4 separate regions of the Homo sapiens genome follow, and regions 1, 2 and 4 are each linked to region 3. The links come from fine-mapping of genetic effects on gene expression. A gene starts in region 3. Each other region holds a variant in brackets. All regions are shown on one strand. Distances are between the middles of the regions.

Region 1 (8,216 bases), 98 kb before region 3:
AATTGATTTCAGCGCCAGGCACTATGGTAAAAGCACAGCCCTGTAAAGTATACTTCATGGGAAGAAAGTGCTAGGAAGTGTTAGAGACTGAATTTCAAACCAAAGGCTAACACCAAAATCCAGTACTCTTCATCACTGTGCTGTTGCCACTGCTCTCCAAATCTTCTCCTTGGTGTGGTGAATCACCCTTGTAAAAATAGCAGATTTCTCCTTTCTTCCCTCCTTCCCTCTGTTCCTCCATCCCTCCTTCCAACAAGTATTTATTGCATATTTAGTGTATGCTAGACTGATCTACAGTGGTGATCATCACTTCCTGTCACTTCAGGTAACTCATAAGACTTATTGATTTATAGCTATTTAGAAATGTTACATGCTAACAGCATTCACTCCTTGGTATGTTCATTCCACCAGTCTTATTTATTGAGCATCCACTGTATGTTTGGTTTTATGAGGTTATAACAGTGGGCGCAACAGCAGGGCCTCTGCCCATAAACAGTGTGTGTCCCATTGTGAGGAGACTGACAGTGAATAAGTGAAAGGTACTTTCATGGTGTGATAAGGGCTATGAAAGGTATAAACAGAAAAATGATAAAGAGTAAGGGACGGCTTTTGGGATGCTACTTCAGAAAGAGTAATCAGAAATTCTGAGAGTGTGACATATTAACAGACTTGAGGGTGAACAGAGAGAACCAACCAGCCACTGAAAACGATGTAGCCAGAGAGATAACAAGTACAAAGGCCCAGGCAAGAAAGGGCTTAGAACACTAGGAGATGAGAAAGGAAGCAAGTGTAGTTGGAGTACTGTGAGCAAGCGGGGCAGTGAAAGAGATGGGGGGAGGAGGAGCAGGAGTGGTAAGGAGACTGGACCACATGGGATTCTTGTAGGCAGTGGACTGCCGTGATCTTATTTGATTTATGTTTTATAGAGATTGCTCTGTGGTAGAAGAGATCTTGGGTAGGATGCAGAGGATTCAACAAGAATGGAAGGAAGGTTGGTTAGGACATGTGTAGCTTAGGGGAAAGATGGTAGTAGTAGTGACATGAAAAGAAATGGGTAGATTCAATACATACTTTGCAAATAGAGGCAAGATTTATTGGTTTATTGATTACATATGGGAAATTAGATGGAGGGTTTTTTTTTTTAACTTGAGCGGCTTGATTTTATACAGAGTAAAAATTTATGCTTAGGTTTATAATCCAAATTTCTTAAGTATGTTGCTCTTGGGAGAGTGAGGAAAGGTATTAGTGCATCAATTCTAAACATATTCAGAATAAGGAAGGTGACCAATATGAGGAAAGATAATTGGTAAAATTGAGCCTTGAATAAGCATTTCAAAATGATTTAGCATTAAACTTTGGGAGACTAACCTCAGATTAACAGGGAATTGCAAACTATTACAAGCAAAAGGGACTTTAGGAATAAACAAATTTCCTCATTTAAAGGATTAGGAAACTCAAAAAACACCCAAAACCAACCATCACACCTTCTGGAGAACATTAAGGTACTATTTAACCAAAATTGAGTTGACTGAAATAGTGTAATATATGATCAGATAATTTAGTGCCTAAAAATAGTTGAAACTATGCCAAAACTTTGCCAGTGATTAAATTCTTATTTTTCAGATATATCTGTATATGCTAGCTAGTCTTTTCAAGGCTGTCAAGTAAATTTCTGAGAAAAGCATTCATGAGTAGAGTACATATAAATATATTCGAAATTGTCAGGTTTTAAAAACCTGCTGGCCAGGCACAGTGGCTCATGCCTGTAATCCCAGCACTTTAGGAGGCCAAGGCAGGCAGATTACTTGAGGCCAAGAGTTGGACACCAGCCTTAACATAGCAAAATCCTGTCTCTACTAAAAACACGAAAAACTAGCCGAGCATGGTGGTACATGCCTGTAATCCCAGCTACTCGGGAGGCTGAGCCCTGAGAATTGCTAGAACCCTGGAGGCAGAGGTTGCAATGAACCAAGATGGCGCTGCTGCACTCTAGCCTGGGTGATAATAGTGAGACTGTCTCAAAAACAAAAAACAAAACAGAAAACCTATTAGTGGAAGTTGTAATCAAACTTTAGAAGTTAATGACTAGAAGATGAAGAAACTTTGGAGATTCTTCAAGTTTAGATTTGGTGGTAAGGCAAGACGATTGAGAAAGGTATATGACTTAAAAATTTAAGGTATATAACTTAAAAATTTAAGCACATGTGAGGAGCCTGGTGAAATGGGTGAATTGGTTTCACCTGGTTCAGCCTTAGACTAGTTGTCTTGAGTTTCTCCTTTCTTTTTTATGGTGGGAAGTTTATTTTTGTGAATGGTATAAACTGTTAAGAAGTTGATTCAATACTTCCTTTTTTTGAAGATTAAGTTACCTGAAAAGGGAACTGGGACAGGTGTCCCAACTTTGCCCACAGGCCTGTCATAACTTGATATTTTTTGCAGCTTGGGATGACTTCTGTGACTTGATGAGCCACATAAGAGCAAGAACTGTCCTCAACTTTTATTGCATTGCAAAGGCTTATCTGGGTACCAAATAGGCATCCCTGCCTACAAGAGTCCTATGTGGTCTGGTCTCCTGCCAAACTATGCAGTAAGTGCGTGGTGGGCACTCAAGTCATGCCAAAGTGAATGCATGTGAAGCTGCCACCATTTAAAACTGTCACTTAAAAGTTCACCTCTGCGTTGCATTAGTAAAGTAATTGCCACCTGACTGTTTTCCTGGCACAGTGGTTCAGAGGTCTGAAAAAGATAAGCTTGTGATCCTTTGTAGGAAGACATAAGTTTTGTGAAAAGCTGGAGTGATTACTTACAGTCTTAAAGCCCTGAATTGTATAGTTTATCACTTGTTTCACTTTCCTGTTTCTTTTTATTTGGCAATGGTATTATGTTTGTTTAGTATTAAGCAAATGATCTTAAATTTGGTAGCATTTTATTATTTCCTAACTAGGGACTTCCTTTTAATATCTGTTGGTTTGGTATCTTCTAGGCCTCTCCCAGTATGTGTCCTGTGCAGTCTGTACCTACAACAGTTTTTAAGGAGATACTGCTTGGCTGTACTGCGGCAACTCCACCTAGTAAGGACCCAAGACAGCAAAGTACTCCCCAGGCTGCCAACTCTCCACCTAACCTTGGAGCAAAAATTCCTCAAGGGTGAGTAGTGATTTGTTAAAGATGTTTAATTATAATAATAAAAAATTATTTTAGTCATGGCTCATTGTTTTTATCCCTGGTTGTCCAGGGAGGTTTTTCGTTAGAGTTTCTGAGAAAAGATGGATAGATGCTTTTGAAGGTGAAAAGTATAGAAGGCACACAGAGCAACATAGAAAATGGTATAGAAGTGAAAGGGGGCATGAGAAAAGAGACTGTCTTGATACAGTGTGAAGGAGCAATTGAAATAGTACCTTTGTAAAACAGGTGTCTTCTTTTAAGGAAAAGGGAACAGATTGGTTGTACATGGAAGACTGAGGTCAGTGGGAGTGTGAAGAAGCAGTGAGACATGGTTACAGTGAGAGATTCTCCGCAGCCTCGACATGAATTGACCCAAGTATAGTTGAGAAATTTGGCAGTAGAGAGGACTCTAAGAATAATAGAAATGAGGAAGCAATATCTGTAGGTGGTAACTGTTACTAACTTGTAGAGGAAGAAAATGAGTACGAAATGTAAAGTTTCACTAGAAAGTTTAAAGTAGGTACAAGGTTGACAGAGCAAGTAGTTTCAAGGGAAGGATCTCTTCTGGGAAGTGGTGGTGGCCTGCGTAGGCAGGCAGTTGATACAGCCTTAAGATGTAGGTCAGAGAGACTGTGGTATAGAAAAGTAGGTTTGGAAGGTGGGAGAGTGGCTGAGCACACTGGTTCACTGGGAAAAAGTAGTCAGTCTGGGATAGAGCTTGGAGGATGGCCATGTGGCAGTCAGACAGGAGGAGGAGCAGTCTTCAAAATAGAAACGGAGGGAACATTAGGAAGTTCAGTGATATCCAAGGAAAGATTTTTCATCTGAGTGTTTAAATGAAAAATTCTTCTCCAGGGTGAAGTCCTTTGGTAGAGGCAGGAACAAACAGGTATAATAGAAAAAAAGGACTTTGCATTTTTCTGGAGAAAGAACTCTAGGATGCTAAGAAACAAAAGTTCTTCAAGGCTATCCCTAGTAAGATGTACAGGGAAAATACCAAATCGTTCTGTGAATAACCAAGTAATCAATCAGCTATTCTATTTGCTCTGTGTGCTGATCACTGAACAAACAAGAATGAAATTATTCTCTGTTAGGGCTGGTTACATGTTGCTCATAGCAGAAAAGGGTTTTGTGCTGCTGCCAGTTTGTTAGTTTTTTTTTAGTTTTTGAGGTTTTTTAGAGACAGGATCTTGCTCTGTTGCCCAGGAGGGAGTGCAGTTGCAGTGGTACAGTCAAAGTTTAAGTTTACTGCAGCTTTGAACTCCTGGGCTCAATTGATCCTCTTGCCTTAGCCTCCCAAGTAGCTGGGACTACAGGCGCGTGCCACCACACCAGGCTAATTTTTAATTTTTTTGTAGAGATGGGGGACTTGCTATTTTGCCCAGTCTGGTCATGAACTCCTGGCCTCTAGCAGTCCTCTCATCTTGGCCTCCCAGAATCCTGGGATTACAGGTGTGAGCCCTTGTGCCTTGCCCATTGTTCGTTTTTAATTAGATTTTGTGTGAATATCTTTGAAGGGATTTCTAACATTTTTTATATACGTATATATTTTAGAATTTTTATCTTGACACATTGACCTTTACTAGAGGTTCAATTTTTGACTCTTGGCAAGTAGCAAGAATGGAGTTTTATCTTTAAAATTCAAACATAATCTTTACTATAGAAGAAAGAGTTTTAGCAGAGGTTTCTCTGAAATTTACACA[CA/C]AAAAAAAAAAAAAAAAAAGAAGAAAGAAAACTTTCGGAATTGCCCCTACACAGACTTCTGGTTTTGATACTTATAAACCAGCTTATCTGCTGAGTATATTCTTTGGTTTCATACAATATTTTGTTTTGAGGGAAAGCTAAGGTTCATTGTGCTGTGAGAAGTAGAACTAACGTAAGAAGTTAAAGATTTCTGAGAACGTGCAGACATAATTTAGGGTTGTATTTTTCTGAGTGTTTATGATTTTTGCAGAACCATTGACTGATGACTTTTAACTCTAGCTCACAGAAATCTATCCTAAATTCTGTAACATATGAGAAATTTTCTTTTTTCTTTCATACTCGTTACCTTAGGGAACCAAACAGTTTGTTTGGGGAAGATAATGGAGAGATAAAAAGAGGCCTGGATGCTAGCTTTCTATATTATATTTTTCAGATGTCATAAACAAAGTTTACCAGAGGAAATTTCTTCCTGTCTAAATACAAAGTCTGAAGCTCTGAGAACAAAACCAGATGTCTGCAAAGCAGGGTTGCTCTCAAAGTCCTCTCAGATTGGAACTGGAGACTTGAAAATTCTGACTGAGCCAAAAGGCAGCTGTACTCAGCCTAAGACAAACACTGATCAGGAAAACAGATTGGAGTCTGTTCCACAAGCATTGACTGGCCTTCCTAAGGAGTGCTTACCTACAAAGGCTTCTTCTAAGGCAGAATTGGAAATTGCCAATCCTCCTGAACTGCAGAAGCACCTAGAACATGCACCTTCCCCATCGGATGTTTCAAATGCACCAGAAGTGAAAGCAGGTGTCAATAGTGATAGCCCTAATAACTGTTCAGGAAAAAAGGTAGAACCTTCAGCTTTAGCTTGCCGATCACAGAATTTAAAGGAATCTTCAGTAAAAGTAGATAATGAAAGCTGTTGTTCAAGAAGCAACAATAAAATCCAGAATGGTGAGTGTTTCTCAATATCTTTATTGGTAGAAGGTAAGAAATGGTAGATATATATATCTCTTTCTTGTCCTATGAGAAACTATGTGAAAATGACTTTGTAGAAATAGTTTATACAGTCAGAAAAGTTGAAAGAAGGTATAATTCCCAAATCTCAGAAACGATTACTGTTAATATTTTGGTGTACCTGGTTTCATGTATATAGAAATACAGATAAACTGTATTACACAAATGGGTTCATGCCAATAATTTTACCCTGTGAATTAGTGTAGGTGTCTATTAGTATTTTAAAGCAAGGATTCCATTATGTTCATTTACCATAGGATTTAACTGGTTCCTATTAGGTGGGTAATTAGGTGGTTCCCAATTCTTAGGTTAAGAAAATTTTGAAACAAAATCTAAAGTAATCTGGTGTTTACTTTATTTCAGCTTGTCACTGATCTTTCTGTTACATCCAGGTTGGAGTAGGAAGAGGTGATCTGTGACAGGTAGCTAAGATTTGAAATTTTAGAAAAGATGCAGAATTGTATCATTTCTGGAAAAAGGACTTGGGTTAAAGATGTTACGGATAGGGCTGAACTACCAGGAAGAGTCTCTTTGCTTAAGGGGAGGTCCTGCTGCACCCACAATTTAAAACTACTCTTCTTATGGGGAAATTGGTACGTTGTACTTGATGCTACTTATATGAAGTTTGAGGATGCATTATAATGGTGGTAGTTATCAGAAGCTCTGTTACTAGAGTTAGAAGAACAAAATGTTTTCAGCATGTCAAAAGGTTTAGAGCTATTAGAATTTAAAGATGCCTTTTGATCACTGTTAGCTATGTGGGAAATTGATATGGATTTTGTTAATGTTTTAGGCTGGGCATAGTAGCTAACACCTGTAATCCTAATACTTTGGGAGACCACTGTGGGAGGATTGCTTCAGACCAGGAGTTTGAGACCAGCCTGGGCAACATAGTGAGACCCCATCTCCACAAAAAATTTTTTTAAAAATCAGCCAGGCATGGTGGGGCACACCTGTTATTCCTAGCTACTGGAGAAGCTGAGGCAGGGGGGTTGCTTGACCCCAGGAGTTGGAGGCTGCGGTGAGTTATGATTGTACCACTGTACTCTAGCCTGGGCAACAGAGTGAGAGCTTGGCTCAAAAAACAAACAAACGAAAACAACCTACGAAAACAATTTATTTATTTGGATCAGTAAAAATGAATATATCTACACTATCTTTTTAACTGCAGGCCTCTGTGAAATTAGAGGGCAAGATGGCTGGATTTGACTTGCGAATCTTTTTAGTATAGCATTGGAAGAATAGAAAGAACTTTCTTTGCCTAGCAATACTTCTAACCTAGCTTCTTCATTGAGGCTTAAGTTAATATAGCTGTTAATTTGCATAAAATTAATTGCATAAGATTATCCTGTTCTCAGAAATTAGGTAACACTCAAAAGAAAGTACATATTCATAACCATATCCTTGTTCTATTTGTTGTTTTTGAATCATCAGCTCTCACACACAGCTAGTTTTTGAAGCAAATTTAATATTATGTGACGAAACAGTAAAGATTCTAGTGCAATAAGCACATGATAGATACACAAGTGAGTTACGGAGTCCAGCTTTGTCTCATTTAATATGTTATGTAGCTATTCCCCATCTAATGGATTTTAAAAGAAGTGAAAAACTTACATCCTGGAGTAGCACATCCTGCTATCTACTGTGACTTTTTTTTTTTGGTTGAGGTGTGAGAGTGTGATCAGAAGCCTACCGGGACTTCTGAGCTGTGTCCACTAGTACTGCATGTTAGTACAGAAGGCTTGGAAAACTTTTCTGCTCCTTTCTTCCACTTGGGGTCTAGAAAACAAAAGCAAACTGGAGTCAAACAGCTGCCTTTTTTTCCGTTCAGATAGATACGTGGCTCCTCGGAAGTGGGCGTTGCATTTTTCTCTTGACTTGGCTTTGAATTCAGAGAATCACTGATGGTAGCACCTGTTGCTCTCCTCAGTAAAGAGCTAGATTTAGACAGTTCAGCTTTCTTGTTTCTAGATATTTCCTCTTGTGAGCCAGGATAGAACAGATAAGATAACCTTCTTGCCTGTGATCTGTGGAAGCCTGGCTCAACTCAAAGGATGTCTTTCAATATCTGAGTAATTAAAATTACATCCTTGAACTACTAATCTCTTTATTTTCTCTCCTTTCTTACTTTACCTTCTCTTTCACTATAACTGAGTAGGAGTGTTTAAGGGATCAAGGACTAACAGCATCATGTAGAAATTTACATGTGGTCTAGTCCTGCTTTAAAAGAGAGGTAAGATTAGATCACCTCTAAGGTAATTATTGAAGATGTTTACTTTATTTAAAACCTTCTTTGGTTTGGGATCTTCCAATTTTCTCCAAGACTCACCTCTCCCACC
Region 2 (8,216 bases), 170 kb before region 3:
TCACCCTTGCCTTTCAGACTCACTCTTCAGGGGAGCTGTAAAACAGCAGCTGTTCACTTGCAGCCCTATCATGCAGACCCACTGCAAACCAAGCCTGTGCTTTTTCTTCTTCTGTCAGCTAGTCCTAGGCAACTCCCCTTGAGGCCACTGGTGTGGGCTGAGAGAGGTGGTAAAGTAGTAGAAGCAAAAAATGTGGGAGGGTGAGCCACCTGCTTATGCAATATTCTTGAGCCTTTTATACCTGCTTGGGCCTTATCTTGTAAACACCATTTCCATTTTATACTGAGTACTGCTGCACATTCCAATTTTATGACTCAGTGGATTAGATAATGCCCAGTTCACAATGGACAGTTTGAGTTGCCTAGCTTGCCATAGTCAGGATTCAGACTCTATCAGGGACTAAATTCAGCCTTGTTCTGGGAATTGGTGCCTAGGTCTTGTGGTTTCATGGGGTTTTCTGGACTCTCTAAAGTTGGCACAGGGCTTCCTGTATGCAAAAGAAATCCCTACACTAAAGACTTCCCTGACATGATTGTGTTGCTGCATAAACTGTGATAATAATGACTAACCTGACTTTCACTTTTATTTAGTTAAGCTTCATAACAATTTGGTGAAGTAGGTTTTATGTTCTCCATTTAATCAGAAGAGAAAAACCTTGATACAGCTCTAGAGGTTAAATGCCTTGTCTGAGGCTACATGGCTCACAAGTGGTGACAGCTGGAGTCAGACTGCCAACTGCAATACTGTCCCCTTGGCCACCCGAAGTAGCTTCCCAAAGGCATATTTATATCAGCCACCTGCAGAGTCCTTTCAGTGCACAGAGACAAATTAGATTCATCTAGCCTGGGCCAAGGTATAGGGCATAGAGTAGGGTAGGTAAAGGCAAGGATATCAGTGGGTCTTGGTACAGGATGATTTTGTTGAATTCCTAAGGACCACATTCTCAATGGTGATGCCCACATTATAATATATACTGAAGCAATTATTGATAAAATGATATAATTTCTAAAATTTGCTTTAAATTAGCCAGGAAGAGAGAAACCAGTGATGAAATAAGATTGGCCATGTGTTGATAACAGTTGAAGCCTAGTGATGAAAATATAGTTCATTATACTGTTTTTCCACATACTAAAAAGTAAAAAATATATTCTATTCACCATGGCAGACCACATTATGGGCCATGCACCTATCTTAGCAAGTTTAAAACAACAGAAACTACACAATATCTGCTCTCAGACTACAATAGAATTAAATCAGAAATTGATAAAAGAAAGATAGCTAGGGCCGGGCACGGTGGCTCACGCCTGTAATCCCAGGACTTTGGGAGGCTGAGGCGGGTGGATCACGAGGTCAGGAGTTCGAGACCAACCTGGTCAACATGGTGAAACCCCATCTCTACTAAAAACACAAAAATTAGCCAGGCATGGTGGCACGCACCTGTAATCCCAGCTACTCGGGAGGCTGAGGCAGGAGAATTGCTTGAATCCAGGAGGTGGAGGTTGCAGTGAGCTGAGATCATGCCACTGCACTCCAGCCTGGGTGACAGAGCAAGACTATGTTAAAAAAAAATCATTATTTTGTTGTAAATCCAATATTGTTTTAAATTATTTAAATGTCACTTTAAATGTTGTTATAAATCCAGTTCTCTTCACTCCGCATCAAACAAGGCAAGGTGTGATCACACAGACTATTTGGGGGTGGGTGGCTGTGGGTCGTCATCTCCACAGTGCTTGGTTTCTCTTCTCAAATCTACAGCTTGGAGTAGGTTGATTTCCCTGCCTGTTTCCCAGGGAAGCGTTGCACTACCCATATGGCAGCTTTCTCATACTCCCTGTCTGCATTCCTCTGTTTCCCTAAATGAATGGAATATCTTGGATGAACTACTGCAAGGTCCTTTGGGTCTCTCCCACACAGTTTTGGCTCACTGCAACCTCTGCCTCCTGAGTTCAAGCGATTCTCCTGCCTCAGCCTCCTGAGTAGCTGGGATTACAGGTGCCTGCCACCACACCTGGCTAATTTTTGTATTTTTAGAAGAGACTAGGTTTCACCACGTTGGCCGTGCTGGTCTCGAGCTCCTGATCTCAGGGGATCTGCCCGCCTCGGCCTCCCAAAGTGCTGGGATTACAGGCATGAGCCACCACACCTGGCCCGATAATTCTTTACTCCTAGAACTAACTTCCCAAGATGTACTATACACACACTCACTTCCCCCAACCCCCACTCAACATACACATACACAAGACTCACTTACTGCCCCATTCCCTGGAATTGGTAGCCTCTATCTCCAGAAATATGGGATGTGAGAATGGAGGGTATAAAAGAGAAGGGAAGTGTACAAAAAATGCACAAAGTGCATAAATAAATATCCAAGGGATTTAGAGGGTGGATTAAATGCCAGCTTTTGTTCTTCCTATGTTTTGTGTGTCTGAGCCCAAGGACAAAACCTAGATGGAAGAATCAAGCTTGCTTACTTACATCCAGCACTCAGAAGGCAAAGCTGGGGTTCGTACCAGGAGCTGTAGCTTGGGTGCTTTCCTCAAAATGGTTATATCTGCCTCATAATCAGATCCCAATTTATCTGTCTATTGATTGCCTGTTGGTCGTAGTTTTCAGTGCTGCTGCAAGATCTGGTTATTTTCTTCATCTTCGTGGACAAAACACTGGAGGCAGTATTTTGAGGACTGCTACTCCTTCCCATGCTATTCAATAAATCTCCCCCAGTTCAGTCAGAAACACTGAGAAGTTACCCTGTGCCAAGCCCTGGATCAGGTGGCACAGGCTCCATGATCATTGTGTATGGGTGAGCTCATAGTCTAGAGCCAGTGCCAGCCGTGGGACTCGGTTAATGCCTCAGCAAACCTCCTGGCTCTCTGCCCCCCACCCCCTTCGCCCTTCGCTGACTTTCCCTTCATGACCCTGGTCTTTCCGTTGTGCCCGTTTCTATTTGCATAGACAAATACTTTAGCTATGCACCTATCTTGATTCTAGAAACTTAGGCTGTGTTTCAAGAAATGGATTGTTGTGGTCTCCATTTTGCCTCTGGAGCAGTGCATAGTCCACAGGGAGGCAGCATAGTCCACAAGCCAGGGTCCATGCTGAATTCCAGATAGAGATAGCAGCTGTGTGGCCTTGAGCTTCATGTCTCCAGCTCCCTCATCTGTCAAATGGGGATAATAATGTGCACCTGATAGAATTTTGTGGTAAGAAAATGAGAGGAAATATATTACAACACAAAGCACAGTCCCTGAAACAAAATGAAAGCTGTATAATACTCTTTTTCTTCCCCATCTTATACATAATGTGAAAACATTCCCTAAAAAACTTGGTTTTGGTCGGGCGTGGTGGCTCATGCCTGTAATCCCAGCACTTTGGGAGGCCAAGGCGGGTGGATCATGAGGTCAGGAGATCCAGACCATCCTGGCTAACACGG[T/G]GAAACCCCGTCTCTACTAGAAAATACAAAAAATTAGCTGGGCGTGGTGGTGGGCACCTGTAGTCCCAGCTACTCGGGAGGCTGAGGCAAGAGAATGGTGTGAGCCCGGGAGGCAGAGCTTGCAGTGAGCCGAGATTGCGCCACTGCACTCCAGCCTGGGCAACAGAGCGAGACTCCATCTCAAAAAAAAAAAAAAAAAAAAAAAAAAGAAAGAAAAAACAACTTGGTTTTGCCAGTATGACCTGTGAAGCTTTTCTGTATTCCTAGAAAAGAGTATTGTGTGAGTTGGATGACTGTGTGTGTGTGTGCACGTACACTCGGTCACACATGCACACTCTCCAGGTCTGCTAAATGGGGAATGCTAAAGTTAGTCTATTTTTGTTTGTTTGTTTGTTTGTTTGTTTGAGATGAGGTCTCACTCTGTCTCCCAGGCTGGAGTGCAGTGGCGTGATCTCAAGATCTCCTCCTGGGCTCAAGTGATTCTCACACCTCAGCCTATCAAGTAGCTGGGATCACAGGTGCACACCACCATGCCCAGCTAATTTTTGTATTTTTTGGTAGAGACAGGGTTTTGCTATGTTGGCCAGGCTGATCTCAAACTCCTGAGCTCAAGCGATCCTCCCACCTTGGCCTCCCAAAGTGCTGGGATTATAGGCATGAGCCACCATGCCTGGCCACCAAACTTAGTCTGTGTGTGTATGTGAGTATGTGATGTGCATATGCTCGTGCACACTTGCATGCCTGTCTTGGAGAAAAGAAATGACTCAGTTAAATTTGATTCGGATAATTGTCTAATAAATTAGTCTTTAATCAATCAGCAGGTCTTCCTAAAACCCTCACTTGCTCTAGATGCCAAGAGGCACAGATTGATAGAAAATATATCTTCTGCCTACAAGGATTTGCTGGTCAAAACTCTTTAAATTAGCTTAGGCACAAGGGTAAAATGTATTGGCTCAGGGAGAAAGACTATAGAAAGAGTAGGTTCAGCTGGATCCAGGGCTTAAACCGCCAGGACTCTCATACTGTCCTTGGGGCTCTGTTCTTATCTCCTTGCTAGCTTTGTTTTCTTAGACTGGCTTCTCCATAAGATAAGGGATGTGGCCGTGGGCAGTCCCAGCATTACATCCACACCGTGTGCAACCACAGCTCTCCTTTCCAAGTTTGAATGATAAAAATCTAACAAGAAAACTCTGATTGGCCAGGCTTAGGTCATGTGTCAATTCCCGGCCCAAACCAAGCCCTTGGGAGTTAATACTCCACTTGTGTCACCTGCATTCACTGGTGGCCAGAACACAGAGTATCACAAATGGCAGACTCATGTGGCTAGGGGGCAGTTTCCCGGAAGAAGGATGTTGCTATTATGAGCAGATGAGATAAATAATTACCTACGACACAGATGCATGCTAAATTTTGCAGTGGAGGAAATTAAGTCAGTGAAATAGTAAGTCGGTATTTTTTGAATTCTATTTTGATGGTGTCGGTGATATATTTATATAACTTTTACCCAGTTGGAACAAGCTATTTGCTTTTTGATAATATAAATGAACCACTTTAGTCAAAGTTTCATAAAAAAGGTATATTGATCCAGTTATTTTCAGCAAATTACTGTGGTTTTACAGCTCAATGCATGCCCATGAGATGAGTATTTTCTCATTTACTTTATAGTAACCTTTGTTAAGAGACTTATTAAGTCATAGCTTGTGGTACAAAGAATTTAAGTCATCTCTCCTCTCTATTCCACAAATGTCTAGGGCTTCTTTCTTTTTTGACCACTAATGCCTATAATTTCCAGTATTAATATCTTCTGACATGAACACGATAACATGAATCTACTAGATATAAACAGATGTAACAGCCATGGAATCCATTAGTGATGCTTTCAGAAAAAGAAATTTGGGATCCCAGGATCTGTCCCAACATTTGTAATATCTTGGGATAGGACCAGAAATTATGCAAGACTAAATAGAAGGCATGGATGGTCTTGGACTTACATATGGACTCAACTTACTGAGGTGGTGGTGAAATGGGGAGAGAGTGAATGAGTCAAGAATTGCAGAGACAAGATCAAGAGGCCTTGGCAACTGCTTGGGAAGGGGAACAAAGTAGAGGGAGGAGCCTGAGATGACACTGAAGTGGGGTGGAGGAGCAACTCACAGAACTAGGAGACAGGGAGGGGAAGCAGGTTGGAGGAAGAGTCCATTCCAGACACGGTGAAGACGAGCTACCAGGATTTGTTGGTAATATGGGAGATTTGTTGGTAATGCGAGATTGAAGCTCAGGAGAGAAAACAGATACTGGCTGAGCCATGATGGCGAGTAAGATCAGCAAGTCAAAAAGTGTAGAGAGAGAAGAGAAGACAAAGGAACTTTGAGGAACACTCCCTTAGTGACTGGAGGAAGTACTTGGAGCCAGAGAAAGAAGCAGAGAAGGAGCATCAGAGAGAATGCAGACACTGGAGAATGCCGTGTCGCATTAAAGAGCTTTGGAAGGAGAGTGGCCCATGGTGTCAAATGTGAAGAGGAGCCTGAGAAGGAGTCCCTGAAGCCAAACTGGAAAGTCTCTGCTAGGTTGGTGCAATGGACTGAAAGTGTGTGTCCCCCCACCCCACAAATTCTTATGTTGAAGCTCTAATCCCAGTGTGATGATATTAGCAGTTTGTGCCTTTAGGAGGTGATAAGGTCATGAAGGTGGAACCCTCATGAATGGGATTTGTGCCCTTATAAGAAAAGGTCAGAGAGTTAATACACTCTCCCTCGTGAGGATGTAAGAAGTCAGCTGTCTGTCACTGGAGGAAACCCTCACCCGAACCCAACCATGCCAGCACCTGTTCTCTGATTTCCGGCCTCCAGAACTGTTAAATTTGATTCAGATAATTTAAGAAAACTGTGAGAAATAAATTTCTGTTATTTATAAGCCACCCAGTATATTACTCTTCATTACAGCAGCCCAAAGGGACTAAGAAGGTTGGGCTTCCCTCATTTAGGAGAGATTCCTCAGAAGCAGTCTTGTGCAGTCGACTTATTCCAGAAGACATCTCTGAGGGTGTGGGGGGCAGCAGGACGGGGAAAGGTGTAGTACACTGGAAGAGGCATATCATGGCTATAAGATTAATGGCAGCCATAAGGCCCACTCATGCATCTTGCAGGGCTGGTACTACTGGTCACTTGGTAGTATGCTACAACCTGACCTGGAGATTTCCAACTCTGGTCCATGGATTTCCAGGAGACAAGGCCACCTCAGCATAGATGCAACTTTCATAAATCATAAAACAAAGCTTACTCTTACAAGAATAGCTTCAACTCCATTTATGAAAGAAACACTTTGTAACTGAGGTAATTGACCTGGACTGAATGCAGGTATAAGAAAGGGGGAAGGATCCCCCAAACTCTGAGAACAGTCTCCAGATGGAGACCCTCTCTGTCATTTGTCATCTGATCCCCTGACTGTATCTAGCCCATGCCACCAGCCTGCTCCTGTCTTATAAAAGTGCTGCCAGAATAAATTCCTTGAGCATTAGACAGTGTCTAAGACTCATGTCTGATGCAAATCTAACTGAAGGGGAAATATCACTCTTGGAGAAGCTGGTTAACTCAGACCACTCGAAAACCCCCAACACAACAAAAGCACAGCAGGTAAGCAAGGTGCAATTTCCAGCAAGTCCCAAGGAGGGGAGCTCCAGGCTGACCCTGCAGTGGGTGCTCTGGGCTTGCATTAGTCAAGGTTCTCCAGAGAAACAGAACTAATAGGATATATAGATGCTCCTCAACTTACAATGGGGTCACATCTTGATAAACCTGGCATAATTTGAACATATTATAAGTAAAAAAAAAAAAAATGCACTTAAGGGGCCAGGTGTGTTGTCTCAGGCCTGTAATCCCAGAACTTTGGGAAGCCAAGGCAGACAGATCACCTGAGGTGAATAGTCTGAGACCAGCCCAGTCAACATAATGATATCCCACCTCTACTAAAAACAGAAACTAACTGGGTGTGGTGGCACATGCCTATAATCCCAGCTGCTCAGGAGGCTGAGGCAGGAGAATCACTTGAACCCGGGAGGCGGAGGTTGCAGTGAGCTGAGATTGCACCACTGCACTCCACCCTGGGCGAGAGTGAGATTTTGTCTCAAAAAAAAAAAAAAAAAAAAAAAAAAGCACTTAATACACACGACCTACCTGAACATAATAGCTTAGCCTAGTCTACCTCACACGCGCTCAGAACACTTACTCTAGCCTACAGTTGGGCAAAATGATCTAACACAAGCTTATTTTATACTAAAGTGTTGACTATCTCATGTAATTTATTGAATACTATACTGAATGTGAAAAACAGAAAATGGTTGTATGAGTACTCAAAGTATAATTTCTACTGAATGCCTATTGCCTTTGCACCACTGTAAAGTAAAGAAATTGTAAAGTCGAGCCATTATAAGTCAGGCACAGTCTCTCTCTCTCTCTCTCTCTCTCTCTCTCTCCCTCTGTCTGTCTCTGTCTCTCTCTCTCTCTGTATACATATATGTGGAAATTTATTATAATAATTGGCTCACATGATTATGGAGGCCAAGAAGTCCCACAATTTGTTGTTTGCATCGTGGAGAACCAGGAAAACCAGTGTTGTAATTCAGTCTGAGTCCAAAGGCCTGAGAACAGTGGAGACAATGTTGTAACATATAATCCAAGTCCAAAGGTCTAAGAAGTAGGGGGCAGTTGGTATAAGTCCCAAAGTCCAAAGGTCTGATAACCAAGAGCTCTGATGTCCAAGGGCAATGGATGTTCCACTTCAAGAGAGA
Region 3 (8,000 bases):
GAGCTACACCACTGGCTTCTCTGGGTCTCCAGCTTACAGACAGCATATGATAGTACTTCTCAGCCTTCATAATCCCCAGTCAATTTCCATATTAAATTCCCTCTCAACTACCTATCTATCCATCCATCCTATTGGTTCTACTTCTCTGGAAAACCCTGACTAATACACCATCCCTGCTTTATTGGCACCTTCTTGAATTACAGACTAATGCTAAGTAACCACAGCTGGTGACAAAACACTTTCTTTGTTCACAAGTCACAGGTGTGAGAGAAAGCCTGGCACTTGGTAGAAGCTGACCCTAAAGTGGATGGACATTCTTCTAACAAACTAAAACATATCAAAACTGAATGGGTACCTTGAAGAACTGAGGAGGAACTTGAAGAAAACCTTGGGCAGGGTATCTCCAGCACCAGATAAAGTGGATAATCTAACACTAAAAATCCTACTAAATAGTCAAGAACCCATTCATAGGCAGGAAGAGGATGGAACACATGACAGTGAAAGGTCAAACTGTTTCTGATCATCTCAGCCTGGAGATAATCACTCCAACCACTGAACTCCTATACCTGTGTATGTGGTACTGTATTAGTCGGTTCTTACATTGCTATAAAGAAATACCTGAGACTGCGTAATTCATAAAAAGAAAAGAGGGCCGGGCGCGGTGGCTTACACCTGTAATCCCAGACTTTCGGAGGCCAAGGCGGGCAGATCACGAGGTCAGGAGATCAAGACCATCCTGGCTAACACGGTGAAACTCTGTCTCTACTAAACACACAAAAAATTAGCCAGATGTGGTGGCACGGGCCTGTAGTCCCAGCTACTCAGGAGACTGAGGCAGGAGAATCCCTTGAACCCAGGAGGCGGAGGTTGCAGTGAGCTGAGATCGCGCCACTGCACTGCCTGGGCGACAGAGCGAGACTCCATCTCAAAAAAAAAAAATTATTGCAGCACTATTCACAATAGCAAAGACTTGGAACCAACCCAAATGTCCATCAATCATAGACTGGATTAAGAAAATGTGGCACCATGGAATACTATGAAGCCATAAAAAAGGATGAGTTCACGTCCTTTGCAGGGACATGGATGAAGCTGGAAACCATCATTCTCAGCAAACTATCACAAGATCAGAAAACCGAACACCGCATGTTCTCACTCATAAGTGGGAATTGAACAATGAGAACATATGGACACAGGGAGGGGATCATCACACACCGGGGCCTGTCAGGGGTTGGGGGTTGGGGAGGGATAACATTAGCAAAAATACCTAATGTAGGTGACCAGTTGATGGGTGCAGCAAACCACCACAGCACGTGTATATATGTAACAAAACTGCACGTTCTGCACATGTAACCCAGAACTTAAAGTATAATTTAAAAAAAAAAAAAAGAAAAGAGGTTTAACTGGCTCACAGTTCTGCAGACTGTACGGGAAGCACAGCAGCTTCTGCTTTTGGGGAGGCCTCAGGAAGCTTCCAATCATGGGGGAAGGCAAAGAAATAGGCATCTTACATGGCAGGAGCAAGAGAGAATGAGGGAGAAGGTGCTACACACTTTTAAACAACCAGATCTCATGAGAACTCACTATCTCAAGGACAGTACCAAAGGTGATAGTGCTAAACCACTCATGGGAAATCTGCTCCCATGATCCAATCACCTCATACTAGGTCCCACCTCCAACACTGGGGATGACAATTTGACATGAGATTTGGCGGGGACACAGATCCAAACCATATCAGGTGCCCTATCCAAACCAGCTCTTAAAATGTTTATCTTACTTGCTAGAAGTTAAGTTCTTTGGCTTCTTATTTCACCTTTATAATCCCTCTTTGGGAGGTAGTATAAATGGCATGATAATTCTAAGTATAGGCCTTAGAATACATAACCTCTGGTGCTGTAATTCACAAACTGTATGACCTTGGGCAAATTACCTAAATACTGTATGCCTCAGTTGCCACCTGTAAAGTGGAGACAATAACAGTTCCTACCTCATAACATTGCAGAGTGCTTAACACAATGCCTGGTTCAATATGTTAGCTAAAGGTGGTGGTAGTTAGGGCTAATCTTAATTCACTCTACAATCTTGCTACTCAAGTGTAGACCAGCAGCATCAACATCACCTGGGAGCTTATTAGAAATCTCAGACCCTATCCAAGACCTACTGAATCAGATTTTGAATTCTGACAAGATCCCTAATGATTAGTGTGCACACTAATGCTTGAGAAGCACTGCTCTACAATACCCAGACTTGTCCATAATGGGGGGAAAAACAACTAAAATTTTTTATTCAATAAATGATCTTACCTGTTCGGCTCTGGCAAGCATAGTTTTAAAAACCAATCTCATGCATCAACCCTGCCATTTTCCAGTGTCAATCAGCTTTCTCAGGTAGATTACCCTACTGAAGAGTGTACCAATATCGTGTTCTTAGCAATTTATCATTTAAAAACAATCTAAGTGTACAATATACTAGAGTAGTATAGTAGTACATATACTAGAGACTAGTTTAAACAATAAAGCAACCATTTCCCCAGCATCTTTTTTGCTTCTCCATAATCTTATCTCAATTTACGAATGGCAATGCCAAGGCCAAACACTGAAGACAACAAATAATCTCTCCCTACCACACTTCTACAATAACAAGAATCTTAGAATATACAGATGTCACAAAATGTGCATCTATATAATGTTCTATAGTTTCCAAAGTGATGTTATACCGTTATTTCATTTAAGCGCCACAATTTTTATTTTACCAAGGAGCAAAACTGAGTAAGTTTCCTGACGAAAATAATGAGTGTCTACTGTTCTAGGGCCTTTAACAACAACAACAACAAATTTACATTAACGCACATTATGTGCCAGGAATTGCAAGATGCATAAGATTAGTTTTTAAAATGTGCCTGCTAGAGCTGAACAGGTAAGATCATTTATTAAAGGATTTCAGGATTTTTTTTTTCCATTATGGACAAGCCTAGGTGTTGCAGAGCAGTGCTTCTCAAAGCACTGATGTGCACACTAATCATTAGGGAGCTTGTCAGAATTCAAAATCTGACTCAGTGGGTCTGGAGTGGTGTCCGAGATTTAACAAGCTCCCAGGTGATGTTGATGCTGCTGGTTGGCATTTGAGTAGCAAAGCTGTGCCGTATTTAAAGAATTAGCCCTAACTACCAATATGAAAACTTTACATCCCTGAATCTTCAATTACTCTGAGGTGACACTACTATTATTCTGGCTTCACAGTCGAGAAGGCACTGAGAAGTGAACTTTCCAGAGATCACAGAGCTGAGATGTGGGAAGGCAGGATTCAAACTTAGGTTGACTGACTGCAGGGCATTTTCAACTGTTTGCCTCCCAATATTATCTCAATTAATAGGTAACGAGAGTTCGAAGCCGGGTCCAGAGCTATCTTCTGTAACATTCTTCTGGGTCGAGTCCCTGCCCCGCTACGGTATGTGCCTAGGGTCAACACAAGGGCTGGGGAAAGAGGAAACTGAGCCTCTTTTTCAACACAACAGGGAGGACGGAGAACAGACGGCTCCTCCGGCAGACGCGACCCGGCCCGCTCCAAACAACGCTTCGGGCAGGAGAAGGTTCTCCGGGTGGTCCGCAGCCGGGCTGGAGGGGTGGGGCCTACGCTGGGAAAAGGTTCCGGGCGGGTCGTACCAACGCGCGCAGGGGGAAGAGGTTTCCGAGGCCAGGACGGTGTCGCTGCCTACGCGCTCAGTGGCGAGGTGGAGAAACTCTTCATCCACCCTCGGCTACCTGTTCGAGAGCCATGGCACCAGGAGCTCTCGCGTCCCACAGCCGACTCCTAAAGACTCTTCCTCCGGCCCCCCTGTCGAGTGGGAGTCCCCGGAAATGGGGGCCGGGCGGTATCGGGCAGGCGGTGGGGAGAAGAGTGTCCTGTCATTTACCAACTTCACTACGCCCCACACAGATCCACCCGCTTATCTGCCGCCGCCGTAGCCCTTACCAGTTCTTTGGGCGGCTTCTCCTGGGTCTTTCCAAACAGCCCCATGACGAACTGAACCCGTCTTGCCCCTTCCGGCTTTCAGTTCCCCGCGCCCAGGCAGGTCACGGGCAGCCGCCTGGGCGGGGCCCGCGGAAAAGGAGGTAGTCCCAACCCCCAGAGTAGGGAGCGGCGGCACTAGGGGATGTTGCGCATGCGCCATACGCCTGCGCAGAATCGAGTGAGTGGGAGACTAGTCAAAAAGGCTGACGTCATCGCACATGTTCTGGTCATGTCTGTGTGGGGGAGACCACGGATTCGGTGCTTTTCGTAAGGTGTAGAAATGATTGCTCTGAAAGATACGAATTTGTTGGCTACAACTGCTTCTAATACTTCACCTAAACCTAGATGTTGCACCAGAAGTCTGGATCTCCACGCAGACGTGTACACTTAGCATCACTTTCCCGACAGCTTCATCTTTGTGTCCAGTAGGCAACTCACAGGTGACAAACCAAAAATAACCTCTTTTTCCTCCCGCCAACCCACTCCTCCCCTCTGCTTGCACCACCATCACCTGGTCACTAAACCCTAGGCATCGTCCTCTCTCCCCTCTTACCAAGTCCCAACCATTCTAACTTCAATATGTCTGAACTTCAACCCTCCCCTTTCCATCCCAACTGCGGTCGTTTTTTTTCAGGCCATCGCCCTTTCCAGCGTGGGCGATTCCTGCCTAGCATTTGTCCATGTGTGTCCCGTCCTACACGCCACACTGACCGTGAGCTTAATCACACTCTCAAAGGAATCTGACTAAAGAGAACTAGACACATTTTAGCACGGACAGTTCCTGATTAGGCCTATACGGTGAGCTGATGGTTACTGTCATTAACTCATCCGAGGATGGTGAAGGGGACCATTTGTTACCTCAGCCCCATACTCCTGTCTCTGGTGGAATCATAAAATGGTTCGGCAGCTTTGAAAACATTTTGACAATTTCTTAAAATGCTAAACAAAGCCAGCCTTCCATTCCTAGCTATTTACCCAAGAGGGAAAAAAGCATATGTTCTTACAAAGACTTGTACACAAATGTTCATAGCAGCTCTATTTGTAATAGCCATAAACTGGAAACAATCCAAATGTCTATCAACAAGTGAATGGATAAACCAGTCGTGATTGATCCATACGAAGGAATAGTACTGAGCAATAAAAAAGTAAACTATTGATAAATGCAACAGCATGGATGAATCTCAAAATAATTCTGCCAAGTGAAAGAAGCCAGAACCGTATGATTCCATTTACATAACATTCTGGAAAATGCAAACTAATACATAGTGACAGAGAGTACATGGGCGGTTGCTAGCGGATAGGAGTGGGGTCAGAAAGAGGCAGAAAAGAGGGATTACAAAGAGACACGAAGTTTAGGGGGATGATGGATAATATCTTGATTGTGATGATGGTTTCACAGATGTATACAATATCAAAACTTACCAGGTTGGACACTAAGTATGTGCGATTTATTTTATGTCCAATCATACTTCAATAAAGTTGTTTTTAAAAAAGCACTGCCTGTTCATTGTGAAAAGTTAAACCCTCATTCTCACTTCCTCAGGGGAAAAGGTCTCAAAGGATTCACACCAACTATTAAATATAGTGTGAATCTTCTGAAACCTTTTCCTTTGGAAAATATACTTTTATTTTTATTTATGTATTTGTTTTTGAGACCGGGTATCACTTTGTCACCCAGGCTGGAGTGCAGTGGCAGGATCTTGCCTCACTGCAGCCTCTACCTCCCAGATTCAAGTGATCCTCCCACCTTAGCCTCCTGAGTAGCTGGGTGTCAGCCACCACGCCCACTGTGTTTTTAATTTTTCTGTAGAGACAAGGGTTAGCCATGTTGCCCAGGCGGGTCTCAAACTCCTGGGCTCAAGCGATCCTCCCACCTCAGCCTCTCAAAGTGTTGGGATTACAGGTGTTAGCCACCTTGCCCGGGCCTATTTTTACTTAGTTGAGATTATATTATATACATTGAGCCACCTCTCCCAGCCCTATTTTTATTTAATTGATATTATGTTATATACGTTGTCCTACAATTTCCTTTTAAACACATTTTATGTAGACTTTCATCAGTGTCAATACCTATGGCAGTCCATAGCAAGAATGTACCATAATTTATTTAACCATTTCCCTATTATATAAGATTGTTTCTAGTTTTTCCCTAGTAAATAATCCTGCAAATATAGGCACAGTTAAAAATTTTAAACTTAATACCAGTATCTTCCATATACATTGCACTATTGTGAACTCCTACCAATAGTGTATACCAGCACTCTTATTCCCTAAATCCATGCTAAAAGTGAATTTTAGCAATATTTAAAATTTTTGCCAATCTAAGGGCATAAAATATTGTTTTTAACTTTAATTTCCCGGACTATTAGTCTGGATAAGCATCTTTTCATATATTTGTTGGTCATTTGAATTTCTTCTGTGACTTGCTTCTTCATAACCCTTGTTCATTTTCCATTTATCTCCCTCCTTCCCTTCCTTATTTCCTTTCTTCCTTCCATTTTAAAGGTGAAGGAGTTCCTTGAAAATGTGGAATTTTTTTAAGTCTCTTTCACCTTTTTTTGAGAATAAACTATAAGCATTTTTTTCAAGTAGGAGGATACTGGATCGCCAATTAGTCAACAGTATTTCTCAAATGCCTACTATATGTCAGGCATTTTATAGGCTTCAGGAAAATGGCAGTGAGCAGAAAAAAATCTCCTACAATCTGATGAGAAGGACAATAGTATTAAACAATGGTTATAGACGAAATTGTATTACTACAAATGTGCAAAATTCTGACTATAAGAAGAAAGTGCTGATCAGTGACTCTTCCCTGAACAGATGACAAATAAGCTGAGACCTGAAGGATGAGCTAGCAGAGAGAGGAAGAGTATCCAGAGTAAAAGAAACAGCATGTGCCAAAGAGCCTTCCCTGTTTCTGGGTGGAGGATTTAGGCCACAGCCATTTCAGATCCTAAAGCTGCAGTTGTTCTAAAGCTGGCCATCAATGGCAGAGAGGCCTGGCAGGGTGTGGAGGAAGGTTTGACTTGGCACATGGCCTCTCAATGTCGTACAGAGCTCATAGGTACTGACAGAGCCCTATCAACACATCAGTGCAGTTCCTCTGCACCGTGCATCTTGCTTCCACACATTTTTTAGGCTCTATCTTTAGAGTAACGTGTACTCTCCATTTGTGTCCTGATACTGCTTTTGCATTGGACAGAGCACTCCTTAGTTGCGGCTGGGGCTCAAGTTCGTCCTTCCTACATGGACCTCAGGAAGCAAGCTACAGATCCTCCCACCTGCTAAGACTCACACATCTGAGTGGGTGGGAAGAACTAAGTGAGCAGGCATTCTAGCTCTTTACTCCTGCCAAACACAGCAAGTGTTTAACAGGATCACACTCCCCTGCCATATGTTCACATAGACGTTTGTTCACACACATTTTCAAAGGCTTTATGTGCATTCTCCTCCTGATCTCTGAAAAATATAAATAGATGTGTATCCTTGAGAGGTACTTCAATGCCTATGCTTTAAATCCTCCCCTGAATTTGAAATGAAAAACAGAAAGGACTGTTTTTCCTCCACCTTCCAGTTTTCCTTGCTCATTTCACTAAGATATCCAGTCTTAGGGAGCTTCCTGGCTCACAACTGTTCCCCATTTGCCAGGTAGATTGTTAAATGAAATGCTTTGGGCAAGAAAATCATAACCCAATTCCTGGCAAGACTTTTGGCTTTCTAAAGCCAAGATACACCTTGTTTTATACAACAGATGGACCCTGGAAATGTTAGATATAAATCAATGTTTGGAAACTGAACTCCCTCCCATGACTTATATAATAATTTTGGAGTGGATTTATCTTTATGACTAAACTTCAGGACCAAGGGTCTCCCAACCCACAACTTACGACTTGAGATAAGGCGAAGACAGACCTTGAGTCACCTCCTGTCCATTTCCAACCATTCTCCACCAAACTTACAATAATCCTTGTGTTGATTTCCTAGGACTGCCA
Region 4 (8,000 bases), 38 kb after region 3:
TAATCTAGTATATATAAAACAATAAAATATTTTGATGAGATTTTACATCATTACAAAAAGTGTAATGATTTTACATCATTACATTTATTAAAAAATTAAATGAAAAGATTGCCTAAATTGATCATGTCAATATATTTAATTGACAACAAAGAACAAGAATGATTAAAACACAGATGATTAAAACATATTTTAACAATTAAATTTCAATTTATTCTTCTTTGAGTTTTTAATCAGATCCAACAGCAAAAAGGACCTAACACAAGATCCAGATCTTTCTCTACGTCACGTCCCTTTGGTAGAATTTTAAGGAATAATAAAATGGCCAAGGAGAAAAACGTGGGAGAGCAAGGAGAAAGATCACATAAATAATCTCCCAGGCTCTCAAACAATGTAAGGAATAGACGAAAAGAAGTATGTAACTATGGGGAACAATTAAGATTTTTGTCTTGGAGCAGGCCATAAATATTAATATTTTTGTCACTTCTAATGGGCACTAAAAATATAATCTGTTTTCTTCAATCTTTTCCACCTATTCTAAATGGATAGTAAAAAGTTTGGCAAAAGCTGGCACGGTGGCTCATGCCTGTAATCCCACCACTTTGGGAGGCTGAAGTGGGTTGATTACTTGAGGTCAGGAGTTCAAGACCAGCTTGGCCAACATGGTGAAACCCCGACTCTACTAAAAATACAAAAATTAGCCAGGTGCAGTGGTGTGCGCCTGTAATCCCAGCTACTCAGGAGGCTGAGGCAGAAGAATCACTTGAAACCAGGAGGAGGAGGTTGCAGTGAGCCAAGATCGTGCCACTGCACTCCAGCCTGGGCAACAGAATGAGACTCCATCTCAAAAATAAATAAATAAATAAATAAATAAATAAATAAATAAATAAATAAATAAAAGTTTGGTAAAGGGAAAAAATAAAATAGATTCTTAAAGTTCAAGCCAACAATTATTGACCGAATATCTACTCTGGTTCTAATATGTTAAGGATATAAGAGTAGATTATAGTGTTACTCCTGCCCTCAGAGAGCTTATCATCCTTAAAGAAAGAAAAGGCTACACAAGGAATTATTAGAGAAGACAGTAGAAAAACTCTTGATCAGAAGAAATTATCTGTCCTACCTACTATTACAGTTAACCATAGAGTTCAGTAACTACATAGCCCACGTACTTGAAATCCGTAGCTCATTACATGAGATAGGTTGTTCTAAGAATTCAAACGTTTATTTTAAACACAGCTAAAGTTTACAGTCTATCAACCTTAAATATTTCCTTCAATGCTCCACCTCCAGGAAAATCTGACAAAAGCATTATTACTTGTTGTGCTTGACAATTAAGTGATGAGTCAAGCTTGCCTGGAGACATGTAACTTTGGCAATTATTTTCCCACTGATCTCATTGTAATATTTTTATTGCATATCTAACGTTGAAAATGTATTATGTCTATTTTGTGCCGTCACTGTGGATACTTGGACAAACAAAACAGTTCCTACCATAAAGGAGCTCACCAAAGACACAGAGTTTTAATTCAATGCAGCTAAGTGTGACAGGCATGTACATGGTATATCAGTGGGATATGGAGGAAAGGCACACATTGGATGATGATAAGTTTGATCACTTGGGTGACATTCACCTGAGTGTCCATTGCATATTTTTGTCTCTTTATAAGCCTGGTGAGGAAGGAGAAGATAGGTAGGAAGGGACAGAATTTCTGGAGAATGTGGGATTTTGCCAGGCAAAGCAGAGAGGAAGGAGTGAGAATATCAGGTAGAGGGAATAGCAAAGCACCAAGCTGGGAAAAATTAGAGCATGAGCCTGGGCCACAAGCAGAATAGAGTGTCATGATGAGTGTAAGAGGTAGGCCAGGAGCAGATTATGAACCTTGAAAGCCAGTGTTAGAGATTGGTTTATCTTCCAAGTTAGTAGTCTCCAACATATGGTGTGCCCTGGAATACTGGGGAAATTTTAATTCTCTTAAAAAATTTCTATGCTTTTGTGTATATTTCATATGCATGCACGTGTATATATGTATATAAATATACACACATACATATATATACACGTGTATATATATAATTTTTCATTCACTGAAATCAGGACCTTAATTAAGAGGATGACTGGGGGTGGGATAAATGAATAAAAAAGCTCTCTTAGGGTCATTAAGTACTTAAAAACATGAGGAGAAGCTGTCCAGCAGACAGCTATAAATGAAAGTGAAGATCTAGGAGGGGTCTTTGCTTAGATATGTAGATTTAGGAGACATCCAATGAAGAGAGAAAAAAAATCAATGAACCAATGGCAGAATCTTGGGAAACACTAACATTTACAATAATATGGGCACTTAAAAATTTTTTAAAATTTGTTTTTATGCTCATATTTGAGAACTGTGAATGATTACTTTTTTCAAAAGTAAAATTAGAGCACAAGAAGCAGTGCTTGCACTTTTATTTAAAAACTCCCAAATATTAATACAAAGTAACTGCTAGGCCTTATTATTCCTTAGCATATGAAAGTGAGACACAATGCATCATGAAGGGGAAAAAATGTCAGCAGCAATTCAGAATGAAAAAAATTTCTTGCCATTTTGGGGGGCATCCAATTAAGGATTTTACAAGTCTACCATGAAACGGGCACTTTGAAGAAATGGCTGATTACAGGGCTGGCTCAGGGAAAATACAAAGTGAACTTAGGATACCTTTGTGTCAAAAGGCAAGGAAGTGCTTCGAGATTAAAGGGACTGTCAATAGGACATAAGAGCCGGCTTAGAGAGGCTCCCTCTAGCCTAATCTGGGATGATTTGAAAATCAAGAAGAATCATAAATTCTAACACATAGGGTATTTTAAAAAATCTGTGAATCAAAAGTGTGAAAAATGGAAAGTTCTTGTTCACAAAAAAGTCAATAAATGTAGAATGAATGATGGTATTAGAAAACCCCCATCTTAGCCAGGCACGGTGGCTCACGCCTGTAATCCCAGCAATTTAAGAAGCTAAGGCGGGTGGATCACTTGAGCCCAGGAGTTTGAGACCAGCCTGGCAACATGGCGAAACCCTGTCTCTAACAAAAAAATACAAAAATTAGCTGGATGTGGTGCCACACACCTGTGGTCCCAGCTACCCAGGAAGTTGAGGCTGCAGTGAGCTGTGATCATGCCACTGCAACTGCAGCCTGTGTGACCAAGACCCTGTCTTGAAATAAATAAATGAAATTCCCATGTTGCAACTCTTCTTTAATAACTGATTGATGCAAAGAATCAACAGATGTTAAAGCCATTGGGTTAGATTGTTGAGGAATAGGATATTTGCATAGTCTCAACAGGTTCCTTCTTAAAGTGAAAAAGTATCTTAGAATGGAAAGAAAAGGCAAATATCACTTTAACCAAATGTCACCAATAATAGGACAAACTGACATGTGCCTTCTGATGCCATACAAATGGAAAGTACATACCTTCCAGACAATATCCTTTAAATCTAATCATGAAAGAAACAGACAAATCTAGAATGTGGAGCATTTTATAAGTCAACCATCCTGTAGTCTCCAAAAATGTTAGTACCAAAAAAAGGCAACTAGCAAGGCATTATGGCTTATGCCTGTAACCCCAGCTACTCAGGAGGATTGCTTGAGCCTAGGAGTTCAAGACCAGCCTAGGCAACAAAGCAAGACTCCAACTCTCAAAAACAACAACAACAAAACAAACAAAAAACAAAACAAAACAAAACTTAGCACTGTGGCTTGAGCCTGTAGTTCCAGCTACTTGGGAGGCTGAGGCAGGAGGATCGCTTGAGCCCAGGAGTTTGAGGCTGCAGTGAGCTATGATGATGCCACTGCACTCTAGCATGGGCAACAGAGCAAGACCTTGTCTCAATAAAATTAAAATAAAATAAAATAATAAAATAAAATAAAATAAATAAAATAAAATAAAAAAATAAAATAAAAATAAGTAAAACAAATTGGCCAGGTGTGGTGACACATGCCTGTAATCCCATCACTTTGGGAGGCCGAGGTGGGCAGATCACCTGAGGCTGGGAGTTCGAGACAAGCCTGGCCTACATAGTGAAACCGCATCTCTACTAAAAATACAAAAATTAGCCAGGCATGGTGGTGCATGTCCGTAATCCCAGCTACTCGGGAGGCTGAGGCAGGGGAATCGCCTGAACCAGGGAGGCGGAGGTTGCAGTGAGCTGAGACCATGCCACTGCACTCCAGCCTGGGCGACAGAGAGAGGCTCCATCTCAAAAAAAGAAAAAAATGATAAAAGAAAAATAAAACAGAACACCAGAGAGAAATCAAAGAAGAGTCTACTTTTTTAAAAAGGGGGCAGGGGCCTAGCGCCGTGGCTCACGCCTGTAATCCCAGCACTTTGGGAGCCGGGGCGGGCAGATTACCTGAGGTCGGGAGTTTGAGACCAGCCTGGCCAACATGGAGAAACCCCGTCTCTACTAAAAGTACAAACATTAGCTGGGCGTGGTGGCGGGTGCCTGTTATCCCAGCTACT[C/T]GGGAAGCTGAGGCAGGAGAATCGCTTGGACCCGGGAGGTGGAGGCTGCGGTGAGCTGAGATCGCGCCATTGCACTCCAGCCGGGGCAACAAGAGGGAAACTGTCTTTAAAAAAAAAGAAAAGAAAAGAAAAAGAAAAAAAAGGGGTGGCGGCAGGGGGAATTACTCTAGAGGAAAGGATGAAAAGGAGGAGACTAAACTTAATGTATCGACTATGTCTGAGTTCACAATAAAAATAAAACAAAAACATTTAGATATAAAGGATATTTCAGGAGCAATTGGGGAGTATCGATTTTATATACATTAGCTATTATTGAGTCAATGTTAAATTTCTTGGGTGTCATAATGGTATAGTGGTTACATAAAAGAATGTCCTTGTTCTTAGATATGTGGTGATATATTTAGCAGTCAGTCATCATGATGACTGAAATTTATTTTCAAAAGGATCAGCGGCCGGGTGCGGTGGCTCATGCTTGTAATCCCAGCACTTTAGGAGGCCGAGGCGGGCGGATCACGAGGTCGGGAGATCGGGACCGTCCTGGCTAACACGGTGAAACCCCGTCTCTACTGAAAATACAAAAAATTAGCCGGGCGTGGTGGTGGGCACCTGTAGACCCTGCTACTCCTGTGAACCCAGGAGGCGGAGCTTGCAGTGAGCCGAGATTGCACCACTGCACTACAGCCTGGGCGACCCAGTGAGACTCCATCTCAAAAAAAAAAAAAAAAAAAAAGAAATATACACATAAGAGATAGGAGATAAAACATATAACAAAATGTGAACACTTGGTGAATTAGATAAAAAGAAATGGATGTTCACTGTACTATGTTTACAGCTTTCTGTAGCTTTAAAAAATTTCAAAAGTCAGAAAAAACATAATTTATGTGTGGCTAATATGCTATAGTTGATTTTATTTAGATGAATGTGCTAAGTACTGATAAATTATTTAGTACTTTTTCAAAAGCCCACCATGAAACTCTTTCCCATCACAGCTAACCAAGCTAAAAGGTGAACTGTCACATCTAGCAAGTGCCAGCAACATTTTGTCTTCCTCCCCAACGTGAGTCAAGAATCATGTTTGATCTATCTGTGAAATTAACAAACCAGCAAAACACCTATATCATTCAGCCACCTTATCAAAAAAATTTAACATTGGAAAATCTGTAATCTTCTGGTTTTAAAATAATTTATTTCATAGGTCTGTTTTAATTTCATGTCTCACAGCATACATTATTTAACCAAGAGGTGCTGGACAGAGATTGTAAAAAGGGAGGAAACATTTAGGATAAGAAACCGGCTCAATTCCATTAGAATTTGATCCTATCTTGTAAAGTCTTGCTAGGATAAATTTCTATAATACTTCTTTTGTGCTTACAAAAAAACATTAACTTCTGAATTTCCAATGTTGTAAATAAAAAAATTTTACAATTAGGTATGCATTCAATTAACACACAAGGCAACCAAATAAATTCTGTCATCAACATTAGCATAATGTGTATTTCCCGTCACTGCACTAACATTAAACTAAACTTCAAACCACAAAAACATTGTGACTAACATTAAAAAGGCAAGCTGTAAGATACTCAAAGCTTATAAAGGACAAATTGCACATGGTTAAGATGGGACATCATTTGACAAGGGCTGGTGTTGTGCATATGGCTGCTTTTTTTTATAAGAAGGCCACCGGCAAACAGGGCAACAATGTCGGCCCCCAGCCAACCACATCACAATGCAATTCTGATGAAACACATGACCACAAGGCAACCCCATTAGCAAACATCCATTTTCAAAATTCTCTAGGCAAACAACACATTCAGTACAGTGCAGCATATCAGCAGGCCAAGTTAACCAATCAGGTTCCATATCTTCATTAGTGTTATATGATCCATATGACCTCCCCTTCCTTTCACATGGGCTGGTCTGACAATATTTATTGGCACATGAACAAGCCTCAGCATCACAGTGACTTGCTGTTCCTGGAGAATTGTGAAGTACGCTTTGCTTATCTTCAAATACTTCCTTCTCACTACTCAAAGTGTCTGTGTTCTCACTTTCCGAGTCATTTTCAGTATCTTGAGACCCCTCCGACATTTCCTCTTCAGACTGGACTCCAAGACATTTAAATCGCCACATTGGTAAGTTTTTAATATAATCAGTTGGTATCAGAGGGTGAAGCCAAAGGTCAGGGAAAGCTAAGCGCTCCAAGAATAAGTCAGGGTCTTCGTCCCAATCAGATTCTACAGGAAAGTTCTGAAAAGAAGCAATCGGGTGGAAGAGGTAGCTGGTGTACCAGTCCCACAGACTTGATAACCATTCTAAGTTATTGGCATTGACTTCATCATTGTTGTTGTTGCGCCTTCTCTTCTTCTCAAAGTAATCAATTAGTAAACCATGACCAAGGTATGTACTGAGAAACAGGGCTGGGTGTGAAGAGTAAAACATCCAGTCTGCCCTTACCCATGAAGCCAGTGTGGTTGTATTGGAATATCTCAACAATTTTAAGCTATATTCATAAAAGCTATCTAAGTAAGGTAGCTGTAAAAAGCCCAACACAGGTAGCCAGGAAATAATTAATAGAGAATTATATGTCCCTAAAGTGCTTATGAGAACCACAAATCGCTTTATGGTAGCTCCTTGTGTAATAAATAAGTCCATCCAAGCCATAAGATTAACTAGAACCAAGCTCAAAACAAACAGATCATTTACCTCGGGTTGTAATGAGCGCAAAAATGAATCCATGGCCTGAAGGGATATAAATTCGCCTGTGTGGTTTCCATACCTGTAAATTCCTTCAGGAGTTCTAAGTATGTATGATGGCATATTATATATGCCAATATCTGTCATATAACTCTTGTTGTCCCAATTTTCTACATTAACAAAAATAAACTCAACTCTTCCAGTAAACTTTATACTTAGTGCAGAGAAGAAAGCTGGGGGCTGGTCAAGGTTTGCAAATAGGTATATTTTTAACCAATACTGATCACTTTTATTCCATTCTTCTTTCAAGTGTTCAGCATTATAAATGGTTTTGATCCGAGAAGCTGCATGAGCAGTTATCCATTTAAAAATGTGCTCTACTTCAATCTTGCGTCCACTGTATTCTTTAAGCATGACTTTCCCTTTTGAAGTACTTGTTTGTGGAACAGACATAATGAGTGTGGATCGGACCCAGCCTCTTCTCCTGCAATATCTACAAGAGAGGAAACTGTAAATAAACAGCTAGGCTGTAATGCAAACAATTTATCTTCCCTGACAAATTTCTTTAGCACCTCACCCCAAAGCCAAATAATTTCCAAATAATCAAAAAGTGGTACCACTACTTGGCAGCTGTGAAAAACAAGCTCTGTTTTTCTAGTTTGTTTTGTATTTCTGTGTTTCTTTTTTTTTTATTAAATAAAGTGTATCTTGAAAAGCCTCTGAGTCAAAGGAATCAGCAAATACTTCAGCATCTCTCATGTACCTACAACTGCGTTATGTGCTAAGATCCAGAAGACAAGAAAATAATTCATGT

Direction of the effects. Alleles are on the strand shown, and positions count from the first base shown. SD is a standard deviation of normalised expression in the study named. Not every link is listed here.
In carriers of allele C in region 1, the expression in lymphoblastoid cells after a statin of the gene that starts at base 4,109 in region 3 tends to be higher than with CA alone (moderate effect, 0.72 SD a copy in CAP).

What was found.
Region 1: its variant is fine-mapped to the expression of CHMP3 in lymphoblastoid cells after a statin (CAP, PIP 0.95).
Region 2: its variant is fine-mapped to the expression of CHMP3 in tibial nerve (GTEx, PIP 0.92).
Region 4: its variant is fine-mapped to the expression of CHMP3 in whole blood (TOPMed, PIP above 0.99).

Annotation. Positions count from the first base shown.
Region 1 is chr2:86,461,070-86,469,285 of GRCh38, forward strand. KDM3A (lysine demethylase 3A) reads left to right here. Exons shown (of 26, transcript NM_018433.6): 9 at 2,984-3,147; 10 at 5,303-5,814. Among named protein-coding and RNA genes, the nearest start is that of KDM3A, 24 kb to the left of the region's middle. The variant CA/C (reference allele first, on the strand shown) is at 4,869.
Region 2 is chr2:86,393,561-86,401,776 of GRCh38, forward strand. No RefSeq gene overlaps it. Among named protein-coding and RNA genes, the nearest start is that of KDM3A, 44 kb to the right of the region's middle. The variant T/G (reference allele first, on the strand shown) is at 3,431.
Region 3 is chr2:86,559,335-86,567,334 of GRCh38, forward strand. CHMP3 (charged multivesicular body protein 3) reads right to left here and starts at 4,109. Exons shown (of 6, transcript NM_016079.4): 1 at 3,970-4,109. The coding sequence starts at 4,014. The region is part of intron 3 of RNF103-CHMP3 (RNF103-CHMP3 readthrough); the gene reads right to left. It overlaps CHMP3-AS1 (CHMP3 and RNF103 antisense RNA 1), which reads left to right and starts at 2,736. Exons shown (of 6, transcript NR_183901.1): 1 at 2,736-2,913; 2 at 3,512-3,586; 3 at 3,934-4,065; 4 at 4,354-4,448; 5 at 4,643-4,806. RefSeq lists enhancers at 3,535-3,704, 3,715-3,814, 3,972-4,266, 4,425-4,484.
Region 4 is chr2:86,597,740-86,605,739 of GRCh38, forward strand. The region is part of intron 3 of RNF103-CHMP3 (RNF103-CHMP3 readthrough); the gene reads right to left. RNF103 (ring finger protein 103) reads right to left here. Exons shown (of 4, transcript NM_005667.4): 4 at 5,659-7,679. The coding sequence ends at 6,104. The region is part of intron 5 of CHMP3-AS1 (CHMP3 and RNF103 antisense RNA 1); the gene reads left to right. Among named protein-coding and RNA genes, the nearest start is that of RNF103, 22 kb to the right of the region's middle. The variant C/T (reference allele first, on the strand shown) is at 4,493.